Linked DNA regions of Homo sapiens. The protein of the gene in region 4 purifies or fractionates together with the protein of the main gene of each other region. This does not show direct contact. Each region holds a gene or a part of one and is shown on either strand. Other genes may lie near its edges. The genes, in order: DYRK1A, FNTB, DCAF7 and FAM117B.

Evidence for each region.
Region 1: the proteins of FAM117B (region 4) and DYRK1A purify together in Homo sapiens (affinity purification with mass spectrometry; 9 studies listed by BioGRID and IntAct, with this or other methods). This does not show direct contact.
Region 2: the proteins of FAM117B (region 4) and FNTB purify together in Homo sapiens (affinity purification with mass spectrometry; 3 studies listed by BioGRID). This does not show direct contact.
Region 3: the proteins of FAM117B (region 4) and DCAF7 purify together in Homo sapiens (affinity purification with mass spectrometry; 3 studies listed by BioGRID and IntAct, with this or other methods). This does not show direct contact.

Annotation. Positions count from the first base shown.
Region 1 is NC_000021.9:37,523,660-37,527,044, forward strand, and holds the end of DYRK1A (dual specificity tyrosine-phosphorylation-regulated kinase 1A), read left to right. Parts: 3' UTR 1-2,699; downstream 2,700-3,385. UniProt on the Homo sapiens protein: Dual-specificity kinase which possesses both serine/threonine and tyrosine kinase activities. Exhibits a substrate preference for proline at position P+1 and arginine at position P-3.
Region 2 is NC_000014.9:65,059,724-65,063,278, forward strand, and holds the end of FNTB (protein farnesyltransferase subunit beta), read left to right. Parts: intron 1-1,457; coding exon 1,458-1,589; 3' UTR 1,590-2,927; downstream 2,928-3,555. Other genes in the region: CHURC1-FNTB protein, read left to right, coding at 1,458-1,589. UniProt on the Homo sapiens protein: Essential subunit of the farnesyltransferase complex. Catalyzes the transfer of a farnesyl moiety from farnesyl diphosphate to a cysteine at the fourth position from the C-terminus of several proteins having the C-terminal sequence Cys-aliphatic-aliphatic-X.
Region 3 is NC_000017.11:63,546,013-63,553,527, forward strand, and holds the start of DCAF7 (DDB1- and CUL4-associated factor 7), read left to right. Parts: upstream 1-4,464; 5' UTR 4,465-4,665; coding exon 4,666-4,803; intron 4,804-7,515. UniProt on the Homo sapiens protein: Involved in craniofacial development. Acts upstream of the EDN1 pathway and is required for formation of the upper jaw equivalent, the palatoquadrate. The activity required for EDN1 pathway function differs between the first and second arches.
Region 4 is NC_000002.12:202,763,673-202,770,260, reverse strand, and holds the end of FAM117B (protein FAM117B), read right to left. Parts: intron 4,816-6,588; coding exon 4,497-4,815; 3' UTR 504-4,496; downstream 1-503.

The DNA.
Region 1 (3,385 bases), on a different chromosome or scaffold from region 4:
ACCCTCCTGTTTTTGTATGGCTCACCAAACTAAGGGTGATTTTCACATTTTACATGGCTGAAAAACATCAAATGATATTTCAGGACATAGGGAAATTATATGACATTTGAATTTCAGTGTCCATAAATGAAGTTTTATTGGAACATAACCACATTCATTTGCAAGTTGTCCACGGCCACTTTGGTGCTACTGTGGCAGAATTGAGTAGTTGCTGCAGAGACCGTATGATGAGAATATGTGGCATTCTCATCATTTTGCCCTGCCGCTCTGTGCAATGTAAATTGCAGTGACACAGTTATAACTCAGCAGCATTTTGAATGCCACTTGTATTCCCATGCTACAACATTTTATTTTTTATTACCAATATATACAAGAAAAGTGGATTTCAAATATCATTGTGCTTTTAAGGTACAATGGAGTATGAATTGTTACTGAATTAGGCAGCAAAGTGCAATGACATGGTAGCTGTCCTAAGGAACACAATACAACCAGGTGCAGTGGCTCATGCCTGTAATCCCAACGATTTGGGTGGCTGAGGTGGGAGAATCACTTGAACCCAGGATTTGGAGACCAGCTTGGGTGGTATAGTGAGACCCCCCATCTCCACAAAAAGTAAAAAAAAACCAAAATACATGTTGTTACTTCCCATCTTAGCACTCATCAAGATATTTCTAATTCACAAGAAAGCAATGGTCAGAAAAATTAGAAAATTTAAAATTGAATATCTCATCACAGAATTTATTCACAAAAATAAAAAATGAAAATGAAGCTACAACCAAAGTAAGTTTCAGATGGCTCATTTGTTAGCCAAGCAAGGAAAGTCACTTATGGTGAATTAATTAAATCATGCTTGATTACTGCAGCTGAAGAAACATGCTCAGAGAAAGTAAACTTGTTTATTGGCCTTTCCACGACAACAGTTGCTCAAAGAGTTGACATTAGGAATGACATCAGTAGTCGACTAAAAAGGCAAATGGTTTTGAGTGGTTTCCCCTGACTCTCATGACAGGGGTCACCATATGTTATGCACACTGCTCCGCTATTGCTCTTTATTTGAGGAGCCAGTACCAAGTTGGAAGTAACTGAAGAATTGGCCTCTATCAATAGTCTTATGTGGAACAACTACTGGCAAAAGTATTTTCAAAGCTGAGAAAACTGGTCAGGTGTGGCGGCTCATGCCTATAGTCCCAACACTTTGGGAGGCCAAGGTGGGCAGATCACCTGAGGTCAGGAGTTTGAGACCTGCCTGGCCAACATGGTGAAACTACATCTCTACTAAAAGTACAAAAATTAGCCGGGCATGATGGCATGCACTGGTAATTCCAGCTACTCAGGAGGCTGAGGCAGGAGAATCGCTTGAACCCAGGAGGTGGAGGTTGCAGTGAGCTGAGATTGCACCACTGTACTCCAGCCTGGATGACAGAGTGAGAACATTGTCTCAAAACAAAAAGTTGAGAAAACGAATTCAGTACACCCTGAAGTGGAATCTGCTAAGATGTGTTATGACTGTTGGTAGTGGAAATATATGTGTGTATTAGTCCATTTTCATACTGCTATAAAGAAAAGCCTGAGACTGGGTAATTTATAAAGAAAAAGAGGTTTAATGGACTCACAGTCCCGCATGGTTGGGGAGGCCTCACAATCGTTGTGGAAGGTAAAGGAGAAGCCAAGGCAAGTCTTAGGTGGCGGCAAGCAAGAGAGTGTGTGCAGGGGAACTGCCCTTTATAAAACCATCAGATCTCATGAGACTTACTCACTATTATGAGAACAGCATGGTAAAATCCTGCCTCCATGATTCAGTTACCTCCCACTGGGTCCTACCCATGACACGTGGGGATTATGGGGGCTACAATTCAATGAGATTTGGGTGGGGACACAGCTAACTCATATCAGTGTGGAATAGAAAATGGCTCAGTTGGACAACTTACAAAGCTTGTAATAATATAAGGTGTTAAAGCCTATAGATTATTCATTGTATTATTTAAGTCAACAGATACTTTGTGAGAAATATTTGAATCTATCATGCATTATTGAACCAGTATTGTCAATAGTGAACTTCCTTTAGCTCTTGTGGACTTCACTATCAACAGCTCTCATGAATTTTTGTCAGAAATATTAGCTGAATATCCCGACATGGCCTGTAATACAGCAGTTCAATGGTTTAGTAGTGGTAAAGTTTCATTTAAGTTTTGAGCTCAGGACAAAGATTGAAATTTTTCTGAATGAGAACTGCCCCGAACCACCGTTACTAAACACTGAATAGTTTTGGAAATTCACTTTTGCTGCAGACTTGATAGTGTTTCTTAAGGAATTCAGCCTAAACCACAAGATAAAAACAGTGTTTATGTGAAACTCCTACTGTGTTAAGTGATTTCAAGAAGAACTATTGTTTGAATCACAACTAATGTTACTGCTTTAAGCTCTTCCCATGTTGTTAAAAGTTAAAAAAAGAAGAGCTCCATTCCCACACACATTTGCCACAGATACATTATCTGAGCCCAAACTACAGTTTGAGCAGTGTGTTAGGGACCTCAATGCAAACCCAAAAGAAATTTTTATATTTCAGAATCCATTGATCTGCATTTGAGAAGTGATTAATGTGTTGAAAGGCAACTATCTAAAGAAAAATTTAATAGAGTCTAATAGAATCTTATAAAAATGTATAAATGTGTTTTATGTAATAAATATGCTAAGCTAAACATCTTATGCTCATGAGCTGGGTGCAGTGGCTCACACTTGTAATCCCAGCACTTTGGGGGTCTGAAATGGGAGGATCACTTCAGCCTAGGAGTTCAAGACCAGCCTGGGCAACATGGTGAAACCCTGTCTCTACAAAAAAAAAAAAAGTACAAAAATTAGCCTCGCTTGGTGGCACATGCCTGTGGTCCCAGCTACTTGGGAGATGGAGGTGGGAGCATCATCCGAGCCTGGGAGGCAGAGGTTGCAGTGAGCTGAGGTCACACCACTGCTCTCCAGCCTGGGTGACAGAGCAAGACCCTGTCTCAAAAAAAAAAAAAAAATGCTCATGGACATAGTAGTGTTGGGAAGGTACCTATCTGTGTGAAGACATGTTCAAAGATGAACTGTGTCACATCTCATTCCAAATCAGCATTAACAGATAAATATATGCAAATATGCAATTGGTTTTGACGATTCACAACACTAGCTCTGAATCTCAATTAGGGAAATGTTATTCCCCCAAAAGATTTCCAATTCTTATTGGTAGACCGGCGTTACCAGAAAATTGTACTCTATTGTTATCCTTGAATTTCATCAATTAAGATTTTTTTGGAAAATATTTTTGGAAATATTTATTCTCTTCTTATAGAAAACACCTATTCAATATTTTAGATTTGCGCCTTTTGACCCAGAAAACCTAAAGTAT
Region 2 (3,555 bases), on a different chromosome or scaffold from region 4:
TGTGATGTACTAGAATAACATCTATTTAATTTAAATTTCATATTTAAATTTTGTTTATATATTTAAATATGATCTGACAGCCTTACTACATATTAGGGTTGTGGTCCTTTTTTCTTTTTTTTTTTTTTTTGAGACAGAGTCTCGCTGTTGCCCAGGTTAGAGTGCAGTGGCACAATCTTGGCTCACTGCAACCTCCGCCTCCCGGGTTCAAGCAATTCTCCTGCTTCAGCCTCCCAACTAGCTGGGATTACAGACACTCACCATCATGCTCGGCTAATTTTTGTATTTTTGTAGAGACGGGGTTTCACCATCTTGGCCAGGCTGGTCTTGAACTCCTGACCTCGGGTGATCCATCCACCTCGGCCTCCCAAAATGCTGGGATTACAGGCATGAGCCACCGCGTCCGGCCCCCTTTTTCTTGATTATAAATGTAAATACATGTTTATTGTTTTAATAATTGGGATACATAAAATATAAAAAAGAAAATGAAAAACAATCATATCACTATTAATATTTTGGTATGGGTACAATTTTTGCTATTTATATACATCACAGGTACAAATACACTTTTTAAAAAGTTTGAGACCAGGTGTGGTGGCTCACACCTGTAACCCCAGCACTTTGGGAGGCCGAGGCGGGTGGATCACCTGAGGTCAGGAGTTCGAGACCAGCCGGACCAACATGGTGAAACCCTGTCTCTACTAAAAATACAAAAATAATCCCAGCACTTTGGGAGGCCGAGGCGGGCGGATCACGAGGTCAGGAGATCGAGACCATCCCGGCTAAAACGGTGAAACCCCGTCTCTACTAAAAATACAAAAAATTAGCCGGGCGTAGTGGCGGGCGCCTGTAGTCCCAGCTACTTGGGAGGCTGAGGCAGGAGAATGGCGTGAACCCGGGAGGCGGAGCTTGCAGTGAGCCGAGATCCCGCCACTGCACTCCAGCCTGGGCGACAGAGCGAGAGACTCCGTCTCAAAAAAAAAAAAAAAAAATACAAAAATTACCCAGGCGTGGTGGCTCACACCTGTAATCCCAGCTACTCAGGAGGCTGAGGCAGGAGAATTGCTTGAACACAGGAGGCAGAGGTTGCAGTGAGCTAAGATCGTGTCAATGCACTCCAGCCTGGGCAACAGAGCAAGACTCTCTCAAAAAAAAAAAAAAAAAAAAAAAAACAGTTTGAGATAGTATTGTACATACTGTTTTCTCACATAATATGTTGTAAGTATTTGCCTGTATCGTTAAATATTTAAATGCGTGTTTATAATGGCTGTATATTAACCTGTGTCCCATGTACTAGATAGTTTTAGCAAATACACCATTTTTGAACCTTTGGGCTTTGTGTGTATCTCTGATTCCTTATACTAAATTCTTAGAAGTGCCTTTCATGGAGCAAAGGATGTGTTATGTTTTCAAGGACCACCGGGGTGATTAACTGGCACCTTTTCTTCTCTTTGCAGCAGCCCACTCACCCAGTGTACAACATTGGACCAGACAAGGTGATCCAGGCCACTACATACTTTCTACAGAAGCCAGTCCCAGGTTTTGAGGAGCTTAAGGATGAGACATCGGCAGAGCCTGCAACCGACTAGAGGACCTGGGTCCCGGCAGCTCTTTGCTCACCCATCTCCCCAGTCAGACAAGGTTTATACGTTTCAATACATACTGCATTCTGTGCTACACAAGCCTTAGCCTCAGTGGAGCTGTGGTTCTCTTGGTACTTTCTTGTCAAACAAAACCAATGGCTCTGGGTTTGGAGAACACAGTGGCTGGTTTTAAAAATTCTTTCCACACCTGTCAAACCAAAAATCTATCAGCCCACGTGGTGTGGTTGGTGAACAGTGCATGCCAGGAGGAAGCAGTCCCTCCTCACCAGCTCTCCAGCCAGGACGATCACACAGAGATGAATGGCATCTGAGTATTACGGCATCCAGAGCCACTGCTGACTCCCACTTGCACGCCACCATTCAGTCACCAGACTGGGTGCCCTCCGATGGGTGGAATAAGTCTGCTTCATGCCAAGGCTGGGCTTTGGGTCCCACCAAGATGAGTTCTCTGTAAGACTGTGGTGGAGTTGCACCAGGAGGTGCCTCTGCCTCTCGACTTGCACCCTGGTCATTTGTAAGGGAAAAGAGCTGGAGGTGGGGAGAGAAAGATCTCCTTCAGTTGGGAGTCCTTCCACTTCAACACTGGAGAACTGAGCCTTGCATCTCTCCAGGGTCCAAGGCCACGCTTGGTGCACAGGCAAGACTTGCTTCAGCCCCAGGTGTGGTGACTTAGACCTAGGAAACCAATTATGAGTGGAAAGTGACCCTCTAGTTCAACTGTGCCAGAGGAAACAGCCCTCCAGTGCCCACCTGCCTCACTCCTCCCTATCATGTACCGTGAAAACCCCCTCTGATGGCCTCAAGGCAGTGCCTGCAGGCCGAGGCCCTTCTGGGGGTTTCTATCTTTCTTCCACCAGACTCCAAGCCCACTCTCCTCCAAGACTGTGTTGTCTTTTCTCACCAAGAGTATTAACACTACTAAGTCTTTCACCTTAACTTATGACTCAGGATTTATTCACGTCCTGCCCACTCTAGGCTCACAGGAATAAAATCAAGTGCTAGACACACTGGCTGCTACTAAGGCACTAGCCTCTGTAGCTGGTGGTGGCAGCGTGGGGTGCCGCCCAGCGTGCTGGGTCCTGGCAGTGCCTCTGCTGTGCTGCACATTGAGCCCTTTCTCAGTCAGTGGAGTATCAAGTTGGGCCATCTGTCTACTGACCTGGCCTTCATGTAAGCAGCTGTGGGCTGCGGGCAGACAGGAGCTCAGAGATGCAGCATGAGGCGCTTAGAAAAACCTGGCCATTTGCTGCCTCTAATTCCCTTTTGCTTTGCCATATTGGGCTATGTATTACCTCCTTGAAATAATAAAAGAATAACATTTTCTATGATGTCTCTTATTTGTGATCTGTACCAAGAAAATGCCCAATGGTAGGAGCTACTAAAGGTTGCTCAGGGATCGTCAGTCTCCTGTGTGCAGGATTCCAGACTGTTCACATCGGTGGTGACAGAGGAATGACCGAGTTCCATCCTCACATGCCGTCTCCTCCAGTAGAGGAAGCCGTGGGCCTAACAGAGAGTGGGAAGAGATGTTTTCCAAGCTCCCTGGGGTAATTCGGTATGCTATGTCCCAGCCCTCCACACACTGCACTTCATGGTCTGTCTCCGACAGACAGCAAGGACTGGGCCTAGTAGCCCCAGAGCAGGCTGACTTAGCAAGGGTGGGTGGATGTCTGGCCAGAGGCAGGGGCTGTCACAGGGACAGGCTGGAACTCTGTGGCCACTTGGCTTTCCCTTCCTCTGGCGAGAGACCCTCTCCCATGGGAGGCCAAGAACATGGATGTCCTGTGGCCTGACCCTCTTGGAGGGGAGAGAAGATGGTGTCCTTAGAGGGCACCCAAATCCATGTAAATAAGCCAAATGCACATCCAGGAATGTAATTCCTGCCCCCTGTGCTATTTTTGCCCTGTTAACAAAGGTTTGCACTGCAAGGCAACATATTGAAATGCATCCT
Region 3 (7,515 bases), on a different chromosome or scaffold from region 4:
AGGCCGAGGCGGGCGGATCAGACCATCCTGGCTAACACGGTGAAACCCCACCTCTACTAAAATTAAAAAAGAAAAAAAATAGCCGGGCGTGGTGGCAGGCGCCTGTAATCCCAGCTACTGGGGAGGCTGAGGCAGGAGAATGGCATGAACCCGGGAGGTGGAGGTTGCAGGGAGCCGAGGCCGCACCACTGCACTCCAGCCTGGGTGACAGAGTGAGACTCCAACTCAAAAAAAAAAAAAAAAAAGATCTTGGGGAGGCAGACAGCCCCCCAGATGGGCCTCTCCTAAAGTAGCTACAAACTGCTGATCCAGGTGACCCAGGATGGCGTGGGTGAAGAAGCTCACGACTTTTCCCAGCCTCCTCCAGGGCTCCATTTAAACAGCAAGCCTGGTGCAGGGTGGGAGAGTCTCAGGTGTGGAGGCAGCTTACAGGATTGAGGGGGCAGTGAAGAAAGAGGTTTCTGATCTACATGAGTACCTTGCTCTGAGCCTCCCAGCTCAGAACCCTCCAGCACCTCATGGCTCAGCACCAAGGCCCGGGGTTGGTCAGAACTCTTACCATGAGCCTCTGACCTGGCTGGAGATGGAGGTATGTTCTGTGGCAGACATGTCAGGACAGTCCTCCAGCCCTCTGCTCCTGATGGTTCTGTGACATTGGGTCTCTTGAGGGCAGTGGAGTGTCACACAGCTAATAAAGTACACATTTCATGTTGGACTGGGTGTGTAACTTATCTGAAGGTCATTACGTCTTTGACTGTGCTGTGGCTTTCTCCAAACCCTTCTTGTAAGGAGCTGCAGACTTACCCTCCACCATATCCAGTGTGTTGGGGACCTGAAGGTGGTTCTGCTGGGCCCAGAGGCTCCTGGAGCCTGGGGCTGTTAGGCCGAGGTGAAGGGAAGCAGAGGCACTGGCTTGGTGGCCCTAGGGGATCATGACAACAGCCAACACTTCGGTAGCACTCGCCCCGTACCAGGCACTGTGCTGACAGCTCTGCAGATACTTGTTCATCTAATCCTCAAAACAACCCCAACGGGTTGGTATTATTATCCCCATTTTACAGATGTGGGATCAGTAGCAGAGAGACTAAGACACCCAAACATGAGGGGGATTTCTGAGGTGCAGGTACTGTTCTGTTTCCTGATCTAGGTGCTGGTTACAGGTGTTCAGGTTGCGAAAGAGTGTGCTTCTGTGTGTAAATTATACCTCAGTTAAAAAGAAAATAAAAATAAAAAAAGAGGCCAGGTGTAGTGGCTCATGCCTGTAATCCCAGGGCTTTGGGAGGAGGATGAGGCAGGAGGACTGCTTGAGGCCAGGAGTCCAAGGTTACAGTAAGCCGTGATTGCATCACTGAACTCACACCCTGGGCAAGGGAATAAGACCCTGTCTCAAAATGAAAATTTTAAAAATCATCCCCGTGCCCAACACGGGGCATTTGTATTGACCCATTTCTACCCAAATAGCAGCGATTTGAGAGCCACCACCATCTATTTTAAAAACACAAGAAACCCTTCTTTAACATCGTTCTTTTTTCTTTTCTCATAATTCCCACTTATTCCTCCCATAGTTTTATCCTACATGTAATTTATTGGTATGCTTCAAAGCCTAATATTGATCACCCTATCATATGTTTGCAACACAAATATGTATACAGGCTGGGTGCAGTGGCTCACTCATGCCTGTAATCCCAACACTTTGGGAGGCTGAGGCTGGAAGATTGCTTGAGCCAGGAATTCAAGACCAGCCTGGGCAGCATAGCTCAACCTGGTCTCTACAAAACAATTTTTTTTTAATTAGCCAAGCATTGTGATGCGCACCTGTAGTCCCAGGTACTACAGGGCTTGCTGGGAGGCTTGGGTGGGAGAGTCACTTGAACCTAAGAGGTCAAGACTGCAGTAAGCCATGTTCATGCAACTGTACTCCAGCCCGGGTAACAGAGCAAGACTCGGTCTCTTAAAAAAAAAAAAAAAAGTGGCTGGGCGCAGTGGCTCACACCTGTAATCCCAGCACTTTGGGAGGCTGAGGTGGGCAGATCACGAGGTCAGGAGATCAAGACCATCCTGGCTAACAGGGTGAAACCCCATCTCTACTAAAAATACAAAAAAAATAGCCAGGCGTGGTGGCAGGTGCCTGTAGTCCCAGCTACTCGGGAGGCTGAGGCAGGAGAATGGCGTGAACCCAGGAGGTGGAGCTTGTAGTGAGCCAAGATCGTGCCACTGCACTCCAGCGTGGGCAACAGAGCAAGACTCCGTTTCAAAAAAAAAGTAGGTCGGTCATGGGGTGGCTCATGCCTATAATCCCAGCATTTTGGGAGGCTGAGGTGGGAGGACCAGTTGAACCCAGCCTGGGCAACATAGCAAGATCTTGTCTCTACAAAAAATAAAGGAGGCAGGAGGATTGCTTGAGCCCGGGAGGTCAAGGCTGCAATAAGCACTGTTTGCCCCACTGCACCACCACCTGGATAACAGAGCAAGACCCTGCCTCAAAACGAATGTGTATAAATTAATTGACATTTTAAAATTAATTTTTGTAACCTTAATAAGGCTTTAAGGGTTACATCTATTAGTAGTACAGTTGTTCAAAACAACATAAATATATATTCAATTTTCTAATAAAAACTAAAATTTTATTGGAAATATACGTCATAAAAGAGAAAATTTCCTCCCCCCGTTAGTTCCTATATCTGTGGATAAATATCATTATTTTTTATTAGAATAAGACAAGGTACCGCGAATTTTGTACGTCTTTTTCTTTCCTTTTTAAATTTGTTTTTAAACTTTCCTCCTTACAGGGGATTTCCTTTAGCTGGGCATGGTGGCGGGCGCCTGTAATCCCAGCTACTCAGGAGGCTGAAGCAAGAGAATCACTTGAACCCTAAAGGCAGAGGTTGCAGTGAGCCGAGATAGTGCCACTGCACTACAGCCCGGGCGACAGAGTGAGACTCCATCTCAAAAATAAAATAAAATTAAAAAAAAAAGAGGATTTCTTGGCCAGATGCGGTGGCTCACGCCTGTAATCCCAACACTTTGGGAGGCCGAGGCTGGAAGATCATTTGAGGTCAGGAGTTCGACACCAGAATGGCCAACATGGTGAAACCCCATCTCTACTAAAAATACAAAAATTAGCTGGCTGTGGTGGTGCACCCCTGTAATCTCAGCTACTCGGGAGGCTGAAGCAGGAGAATCACTTGAACCTGGGAGGTGGAAAAATCATTTATCATTAAAAATTATATTTAGTGCCCAGAATGGTGGCTCAAGCCTGTAATCCCAGTACTTTAGGATGCTGATGTGGGAGGATCGCTTGAGCCCAGGAGTTCGAGATCAGCCTGGGCAACATGGAGAGATCTCATCTCTACAAATAATAATTTAAAAATAGCTAGGTGTGGTGGCAAATGTCTGTGGTTCCAGCTACTCCAGAGGCTAAAGTGGGGGAATCGTTTGAACCTAGGCAGTCCAGGCTACAGTGAGCCCTTATCACACCAGTGCACTCCAGCCTGGGTGACAGGGCAAGACCCTGTCTTTAAAAAAAAAAAAAAAAAGTATTTAATGTTATCATCCAACAATTCAATACAAACCTCCTTCAATTTTGATGAAAGCTGAGAATTGGAAATAATTTATATAAAGGTGTCATTTGGTCTCTGGCCCTTCCCCTTTTCCAACTCACAGGCACAGATACCTTTGGGGCTGGATTAGCATTTGCGTTGGGATCCACGGCGGGAAGGGTACAGGATGGGAACTGACAAAAACAGAGCCAAGCTGGTCGGGTCGGTGCCTACCCCAGAATTCGGGGACATTTCTAGATCCTGCAGGAAAGCGCGGGAGGGCCTGACTCAAGCTGGCCTGGCCCTGAGCGCATCTGCGCGCCCGAAGCCTGTCCCTGAGGCACGGAGAGAGCAGCTTTCGGGTTAAAAGGGCCCTGGGAAGAGATGGGGCGGGAAGGTGGTACCCGTTGGGCGCAGGCCAGGCTGCCAGGCCGCAGGGCTCTGTCCCGCGAAAGTCAGTAGGTCTTCCACTAAGGCAGAATTGTACTTTTACTCGACAGCGTGGAGAGGCCGCTCAGAACAGCAGCAGCGGAGGGGAAGTCAGCGCAGGTCACAGACGGTTTCACTCTCAGAGACTTGGCCTAGAACTTGGAGGCCCGCTGCTACAGCACGCTCGCCTCCAGGCCACCCACGCCCCCACCACCCGCACTGAGCCGTTATCTGCCTGACTGACATCTTGGCCAACCAATGACCTTTGGGGCTGCCAAAGCGCCTGCCTCCGAGAGTTGGGCGGGGCGAGTAGTTGCAATGACAAACATTTAACCCAATAGCGAGGAGATTTCAGACGCTACGGCCGCAATAACCAATGACAAGAAAGAATCCTTTCGAAAGGACGTGTCAGGCAACCAACGGCCGGTGCCGCTGCGGGGGTCCGGCGGCTTCCGTTCCGAGAGGGCGGGGCGGCGTCCCAAAACGGAAGGTGGTTGTCGTCCGTTCCCAAGCTGGTTTGAAACTAGGGGTCGGGCTCGGCCGTCGTCGTTGTTTGTCGCCGCATCCCCGCTTCCGGGTTAGGCCGTTCCTGCCCGCCCCCTCCTCTCCTCCCTTCGGACCCATAGATCTCAGGCTCGGCTCCCCGCCCGCCGCAGCCCACTGTTGACCCGGCCCGTACTGCGGCCCCGTGGCCACCATGTCCCTGCACGGCAAACGGAAGGAGATCTACAAGTATGAAGCGCCCTGGACAGTCTACGCGATGAACTGGAGTGTGCGGCCCGATAAGCGCTTTCGCTTGGCGCTGGGCAGCTTCGTGGAGGAGTACAACAACAAGGTGGGCCGGGCAGGGGCTCGGAACCCAGCTGGCGGGGAGCGGGCCCCGGGAGCGCCCTTTCCGGGCCGGAGCCCAGGCCTCAGAACCCTCTTGCGGACTCGCCCTAGGGCCACGGAGCGGTTCCTCTGTCTGGCCCTGTGCTGAAGGTTTCGTACTCGTTGTCTGTCTCCTTTAATCCAGGCAGCATTCTTGTGTAGTCGGCAGTGTAGTGGGGAAACTGAGGCACGGTTTTGTGACTTGCCTGGGTCAGGCAGCTATTTCGGGGTGGAAACAGGTCTTAAAACCGGGTTTACGCCCCAAAGATACTCCATTTATTCATCCCGTGCTCTCCACTCCTGCCGCATTGCTTTCGTTGGTGGGCGGGGAAGGGAAGAGAGAGTGATAGCTGTGAAGGAAAATGCAGGCGCTTCTATTGGTGGTCGTGCACTCCTGGCCACACTAGATTTCTATTAAGACGATCTATTGTACAAGCTTCCCCGCCCCCTACTCCCACCCCCCCCGGGTACTCATGGATCCTAGCCCTTCTGCCAGAATTACTGTTGCTCTTGCTTCCTGATATCCATTCTCTCTAAAGCAATCTCTTTGGAAATCTTGGCCTGTGGCATGATCCCGCCGTTGTTTCCTGAACACAGAAGGATGACAGGGCCTTATCTCTTGGCTTGTTTCGTGCTAGTACAGTTGTGTGACCTTTAGTAGTAAGTCTTGCTGGACATACATCAATTTGAGAATCCTTTATAGAAGCACGGTGTAGTAGGGGAGCTTTTAAACTGGCATTGCAACAAACTCATTTTTGAAAGTTGAATAAGTCAGTTGGAAGAATTTTCTTTCTTCCTTTTACTCAAAGTTGTGAATGATAGCGATCAGAGCAACTGAAAGCTGTGGCTAGTGATATTTAAAGCCACTACTCCTGCTTTATGCCATGAACATCAGATTTAAGAAGAGTAAAACTGGCCGGGCGCGGTGGCTCACGCCTGTAATCCCAGGACTTTGGGAGGCCGAGGCGGGCGGATTACCTGAGCTCAGGAGTTCGCGACCAGCCTGGGTAACACGGTGAAACCCCGTCTCTACTAAAATACAAAAAAAAAAAAAAAAAAAAAAAAAAAAAAAAAAAAAAAAGCCGGGCGTAGCTTAGTGCGCCTGTAGTCCCAGCTACTCGGAAGTCTGAGGCTGGAGAATTGCTTGAACCTGGGAGGCGGAGGTTGCAGTGAGCCGAGATGGCGCCACTGCACTCCAGCCTGGGCGACAGAGTGAGACTCTGTCTCAGAAAAAAAAAGAAGAATAAAACTGTTCAGTGACAAGGCTGATGCAGGGGGGAAGAAACCAGGTGGTCCTGTCTGGTTATTGACTAGCTGTGAGATGTTGCACAGGCCTGTTTTATTATCTGTGACCCACAGTTTGTACGGAAGGGGTTCTGGTTTACATGTGAGGGTCTTGTAAAAAAGAAATTTGAACATTTCACAGTTTGTTTACAGTTTTTCAGGAGCACATTTGTTTCTCTAGAGTAGGTCCTCTTTGGAGTCCACTTTGAGAAGCTGATGAAAGCTATGGATTCTCATTGTCCAGACATTACACATACATGAACAATTTACAAACAAATCCAAGGAATATGCACTGATCTTTAAGTCCACCCATTGCCCGGGCGAGATAGAGCTTTCTTTCCTCTGTTGCTTCTTTCTTCCTTATGGCCCATAGTGGACAGCAGAACTGGAAATGGGATTCACGATTCTGATGTGGACACCGTGTTAATAAAATTAAGACCACTAGAACTATTGTTTAAAGATACACGTGGAAAATAAAAAAGTATGTCTTTCAAAGGGCTTAAGTCTTTTTACACAAATTAATGTTTTTTCTTGTAAGTTTTTCCAGGGTCGTTGGGTAAGCAATAGTTACTCCTATTCCTCAGAGAGGAGAAACTGAGCCACAGTTAGGCTGCTTGGTAGGATCAGTGGAGTAGTCAAACTGCTGTTGCAGGAACTCTACCCCAGTTTGTCCTTTCATTTAGCAACTATCTGGAGCTTCCTCTTTGTGACAGGCACACAGGTAGCATGGCTTAGCAGTGAAATGCAAACTAATAACCCCACTATCAACAGCATTAGCAGTTAACTATATCTTAACTCACATGATGTAGGCAATGCGCTGTCTTAAAATCATTTTTGTGCCTCCACCTATCAGTAGATCAGGGTTCTTAAATTCTGTGTGCCATGGTCATCTGATACCAATAGACCCCTTCTCATAGTTATGTTTTCAAATGCATAAAACACATAGAATTACAAAAGAAACCACTTATGTTGCACTACAGATATAAACAACATGTTTTTTAAAGTGGTGATGTAGTCATATGTACTTTTAATAAATTAACTTATTGATTTACACCATCCACTGTAATTATTAATGTAATTTTGAAATGGTGACAAGGGTAAACAGCATTTCAAGATGCTTAACAACTGTGCTGTGGTGGGAAAAAAAAATTCTCTTGCTGGCAAAGTCACAGACAGTCATACCACTGTGAGCACCTGACCCCATTTGTAATTGAAGGAAACAAAAAAATTTAGCTAGAGGTTAATGGAAATATGGGGATAATTTTCCAATTCAAGTTCACAGACCCCAAGTTAAGAAACCCTGCGAGAGAGAAGTATGTGTAGTGGTTGGTGAGCAGCAAATCCTGCCTTAAAGTGATTCTCAGGCTAAGTTTGTGAGAAACCCTGCCAAAGA
Region 4 (6,588 bases):
TCCCTGCTTTCTAAGTTATTACAGTGTAGCCTTCTGACCAGCTCTGCTGTGTGGATACAGACAAAATCCCCAAAACTCAACAACTGTCCCCTGAAACCCAACGACTGTCTTGCATATATAAGCCACTGTCACAAAGGAAGAATATGGCTGAATTACCAAGAATTAAAACAAAAAAACTCCTCTCATGTACTTTATAATGAATGTAAGTGACTGCCCCAGCTAAGTTACCTCTAACAAAACTCTGAAGCAGTGAATTCCTCACGCGTGGGTATCTCTCTGTGCTGCTTATATTTTAATGTGTGCCTAGCACTTACCCCAAAGAGCAGGTACTTTCAGTTCTAGGGCAGGTGAGGGGTAGCAAGGAACTTGCTGCTGAACACAAACAAATTTTTCTATTAGTCTGAGAAAAACAATGTACCGCTTAAAAGCTAGATAAATAACCAGTCCAAAAAGAAATGTAACTTGAATTTGGACAATATTCATAAAAATTCACAGAAAAAAACTCAAGAAGAACAGACTTTATTTTTAACATAAAAGTTCTATTTTCTTGTGAGGCAGCAACAAGTGTTCAGGTACAGGGAATACATAAGTACAGCGTAACAATACCGATTACCATTGGAAATGCTGTTTTTTGAGAGAATTGTTAGAATAACAAAATGTTTTAAATTGCATTTTAAAAAGAGTTACACAGCTTCCACAGAGACAAAAAATGAAGAGTTAAAAAAATTCTATTCTTAAACAAGACTGTATAAACAAAATGCTGTTCAGGGCTGCTCTGCTCATCTTCAATTTGGTCAGAGTAGAACTTAAAGTGCAGAGTTAAGCATTCTTAGCTTTATTTTGCAAATTCAGCACTTCCACTCATCTGGTTTTGAGACATCAAAATTCCAAAGACTAAGGAATGAATCTTAAGTTTACAATAGTAAAGTAAATGCAGTAGTGGCAAATTTTCTTTTATTTTCCTTCACAAAAGAAAATCTTTATAACCCAGTCCTAGTCTTGGACATAGTGAAAGCTATAAATTCTGACTTTTTTTACACTTTCTTTCAGTGAAAGCCAACCACTGAAAGCAAAGAAAAAGGACTTTCATGTCGTCAAATATTCCACAGTTAGCAAGAGCACCTTCTAAAAGACTGATTTGGACTGTAGTCATAAGTATTAAGTATAAGAAATATAAAACAAATTGAATAATCTAGTTGAAAAATAATCTTGACATCCATGCTCACCACATGTAACCAAAGAGGCAAAACCGGTATTTTTAAAACACAGTTGCGTACAAAAGCCATGACAAGTAATAGACTCAGTCATGATCAGAAACAGTAAATTTATATTATTTTTATCATCACAAAGAAGAAATTGTTTAAAGATTTAAAAAAACCTAAGATTGACAAAGTGAATAACCAAATAGCTCCTTTCTCTGAAAGACACATGCTACCCATTTCTTTTAATGCAATGGAAATAAATTTTTATAAAATTAAAAAAATTTAAATTATATTCCCATTGAAGCTATTCTATTTACCTTCTGTACAGTTTTCTACAGAATAACAATAATTATGGAGTGTAACTTTAGAAACCAACATTATGCATTCTATTGAGAGTGTCACATTTCACTGGAAAGCTGGAGACCCATTTAAAAAAAAAATCAACCACCAGGGAACTAAGGGTTAAATAAAACAGCTGAATGAACCTATGGTTAATATTTTTTTCAAGACTGTGGTAAAGCTTACATGCTTAAAAATTAGCCCTTTGGCACTGGCAGTTAGAGTTGTTTTGTACCTTGTACCTTTTTTTCAAATCTCAAGCTCTATTTCTCCCAAACCCCAGGGATCTGTCTGGTTGCCATACAATTCATTTACCTGCAAATTCACATTCTCCTTACAACCAAACATTACACTAGAAGTTCTATGTATAAGACTGTAAATAATTCTGAAACTTGTTCTTCCATTCCAATTTTAAGTTACTTTAGATTAAGGACATATGAAACTCCACAGAAAGATATGAATTAGACAAATAGGCACAACAGAGCAAAAGGGAAAACCTCTACAGAGTGGCATTCTAGTTCTAAAATGCCATTGTGACTAGCAGGGATAGAGATGGAAGAGGAACGGAAGTGCAAGGCCAAGAACACAGATTTAACAGAATTCAAGTCATCCAAAAACCAAGAGTTCTTTTTAAATAACTTGTTTTTAACTTCCTCTACCCCCATTCTGATTTCAGTTTTACCTTTTCTTCTGAACTTCTGATACAGCAGATACTCAGTGGTGATACAGTCAAGTTATAATGCATAACAAAGAAGGCAAAATATCAAGGCTCTCAGTGAGAAAATGTAGACCCCAAATAACTGAGCTTTTCATGACTGAGAAGCCATAACGTACTAGTTCCAAATAAATTAGTTTTGGATTGAGAAAGTACCAAAGTTCATCAATCCCACCATCTAAAACCTGACGGATTTATTCAAATGTTGAATTTATCCAATTTACCTAAATGCATCTCGAATTTAAACTCAACAGGGATTATTTTAAATTGCTTAGATGTTTTAAAGGTACATGAGTATAAGAAGTCCTTTCCAAAGATTTATTGCTACCACTAGGTTTTCCTTGATAGAATATGTCTGGGTAAGCTGACATATTAACCTTCTAAACTGCATCCTCTTTATAAGGATTTAAAAACTTTTTTCTACCTTATAATATGTATAGGAACAGTAAATTATTGCATCATAAAGTAGTATATGAAGATATGAAAAGGATGCTTTTATTCAATACTGTTTGCTGAAACTCACTTTTAAAAAAAGAGCTGCTCCTGGATGGGCGTGGTGGCTCACACCTGTAATCCCAGCACTTTGGGAGGCCAAGACGAGCAGATCACCTGAGGCCAGGAGTTCAAGAACAGCCTGACCAACATGGTGAAACCCCATATATACTAAAAATACAAAATTAGCTGGGTGTGGTGGTGCATGCCTGTAATCCCAGCTACTTGGGAGGCTGAGGCAGGAGAACTGCTTGAACCTGGGAGACAGAGGTCGCAGTGAGCCGAGATTGCGCCATTGCACTCCAGCCTGGGCAACAAGAGTGAAACTCCGTCTCAAAAAAAAAAAAAAAAAAAAGCTGCTCCTTAATCTCACTACCACATACCCAGAAATCACATACTGATGTCATGTGATACTGGCAGTGATTTATATTAGGATGAGCCCTAATCCAAAACTGTATGGAGTTTTCAAAGGTGCTTATCGTTCATACTCAAGTTCTTCTTGTGTATTTTCCCCACTATGTGAAGCGTTAGGGGGGTAAATTAGCAAAATCTGTAGGCAACAAATCTCAGGGCCAACCACCACCACAAAGAAAAATGTCAGTCACAGGATTCTGCGGCTACAGTTTGGATCACTATCCACTGGATTACACTCCTGGCAAACTACTAGCCCAACCAAATCCACAAGACAACAACATCACAAGGGCAAAGGAGGAAATCCATGCACAGCCATTTCAGGATCTCTTTGGGGCTATGATACAGTGATGATTAAAGGTAGAATGACACCTGTGGTAAAGGAGGGAGAGCGTGTGATATATATATATATCACAGAAAACCAAAGGGGCTCCTTACTCTTAGCTAGCAATCAACGCTGGATAGCTTCCTTTTGGCTCACTGACTTTTAAATCAAGTTCCAATATGGGTGAGAACATATTAAAGCACTTGTCTTCAGACTACAACTTTTCTGACCACATGGTGAAATGTGTACAGGAGTAGTGAAGAAAACAGCAGTTATACAAATATTTCACCCAAAGCACAAACTTTTGACATCAAAAACATAAATCACATAATGTACGAATATTGCTTTTTAATCTCTTTTTATATATACTTGTTCAATGCATTTACCTATCAATCCTTGTTTGGGAGAAGAACATAGTCATGAGATTAAGATTGCTGGGAAAACGTCAACAATCCCTTTGGTCCCAAAGCTGAAAACAGCTGAGAAAAGCACACATCTAGAAAGGGAACAAGAAACAGAGGCCACCAAAGAATCTTTTGAATATCCTGTTTGCTACGTTTCAGAAAATGTAACATTGGTATATTATAAAATAGTCATTTTCATAGAAAAGATGGTTCTTGCAGCATCAGTCACATCTCCCTTTAGGAATCATGTTGGCAAGGATCAGGGGTGTGTGTGTGTGTGTGTGTGTGTGTGTGTGTGTGTGTGTGTGTGTTTTAAAGAAGTCTAATTCGAAAACAAAAACGTGATATTGTCTCTCCAAAGGTAAAGAATGAGACCTTTCTTGTTTCAATCAGTGCTTTGATAAAAAGCAGGCTAAGCACTGAGGGTTGGCGTTCACAAGTGGGGCAGAGCCGTCACGGGGGATCCTTTCTTCCAGAAGCCTCGCCGTCACATGTCACTGGAAAGCTGGAGCACATCACAGCCGACCAGAAGCGCACGATGCCATCAGAATCCAGTGATCTGAGGAGGTTCCCAATTTCCCAGAACAACAGCCACGTTGCACTGTGACCTATCCTTCAGCTTCCTCAATTGGTTCTGGTGGTGGGAGTAGAGAAGCTGATGGCATGACTGTACTTGTTCCTCGAGAGACTCGGTCTTGCTCTGTGTTTGTAGACAGGGAGGCCACAGCAATAGGCTGCAGCAGAGTGGTTGTCATGCCAGTGGTGACTGTCAGGCTGTGGCCAGAGCCCTTGAGTGTAAGATCCGGGGTAGGAAGGAGTGGCTTGAGGATGCTGACGAGGCAGAAAGCAGATCCACTTTTAGGAATGAAATTCACCTTGTTTTTGTCAGGACAATAAAAGGCTGGGATTTCATGAAGCTGTTTTGGCCTAGACATAGAACAGACAACCCAATGCTTTTAAGTCACTGAACTTAAAAAATAAAAAAAAAAAAAAGCTTGGAAACAAGCTCTTTTATTTTTTAAAAACAGTTAACTTACATCACAGAAAAGGAATATAAAACTCAAGCTCTGTCCCCCACCTTCAAACATAAAGGACCAAAGTGCTATCTGACATATGATTCAACATATGTATCTTAGAATGCAAGAAGCCCCCATCATCATTGCTGCTTTCAGTTCCCTTGACAGCCCCATTACCATGCAGGTGGCTCAGCCCGATGAGCACTGCATGTCAATGATGAGCTAAGACGGTCAAGGGAATAATGAATTTCCTATAGCAAAAGAAAATCTAGATGTTTAAAGACATGTATGCCTTTATGTATGGTATATTCCACTGCCATGATTTTTCCGAGGTCTATAGTATACTGGAAGGAGACAGCAAGGAAATTAAAGATATACAATGTCCGTCTTTTGCTAAGTTCCACCACTGCATGACTAAAACTATGGTAGGCCTGGCTTTTCTCTTCAAGTGCTTGTAAAAATCTCTTTGATGGAAACAATTCTTTGAGTTAACCCTGATAGTTTTCTGAGCAATATAATGTAAATGTGAAATCAAAATGAAAACTCCTTTGCTTTGAAAGCTTTTTATTAAAGCCAAATCCTTCCCTTTTCCTAGGTCCTCCTGAAAATTAACCCAAATTGTTGAAAAAGATATTGGTATTAATGGTATTTCATGAAAATTAAAAGTATAAAAAAACTACATTGTTAAAGCAACACAGAAATGCCACAGAACTAAGGTGGGAGAACCTAAATAAATCAAGACTTAGGTTGATTCTCATCTCTTCCAATGACAATAAAAATCTAAATCAGCCAGCCATGGTGGTTCACACCTGTAATTTCAGCACTTTGGGAGTCTGAGCGGGGAGGCTTACTTGAACCCAGGAGTTCCAGACCAGCCTGGGCAACATAGTGAGACCTCGTCTTTATAAAAACCTTAAAAAAAAAAATAATCTAGTCTGACGGCATGCACCTGTAGTCCCTGCTACCTGGGAGGCTGAGGTGGGAGGATAGCTTGGCCCTGGGAGGTGGAGGTTGTACTGAGCCATAATCGGGCCACTGCACTCCAGCCTGGACAGCAGAGCAAGACCCTGTCTCACACACACACAAAAAATCTAAATCAGTTCAATAAAAATGCAAGTGTTCACTAAATTCTGAGGATACAAAGTTGAAACAATCCACAAGGAGGAGGTGGACTAAATTTATAGTTCTTGTGGGGTGAGGAGTGATGGGGACAGAGCTGTGTTTCAACATAACTAGCTTCCTTTATAATCTTGTGTATATGATGCATTTAAAACATTATTCAGAGAAGGGATCCACAAGCTTTACCACACAGACTGCCAAAGCTGTCCACAGCACAGAAGAGGTTAAGACCGCCACAAGAGAATCTAACAGGCATGATTACAGAGGTTTATAAAAAGGTTTACAGGTAGCACAAGGGGGTGGATAACCTGTGGCCTGTAGGAAGAGGGAGGGTTTGGTAGTAACCCTCTGAGCTGGGTTTTGAAGAATGAGTAAACAGCGGATGGGGAGTGGACACCAAAAAGATGTGTGTTCCAAGTAGACAATGATTAGGTGGGCAGATTTTTATTAACAGTGAACACTATGGAGAGCTTTGGCAAATATAACAATTAAGAACAAAGAAAAATACATCATGTAGGTTATGTTCAACTTGGGCACTATTCTTTGTAGAATAGTTGAGTACTTT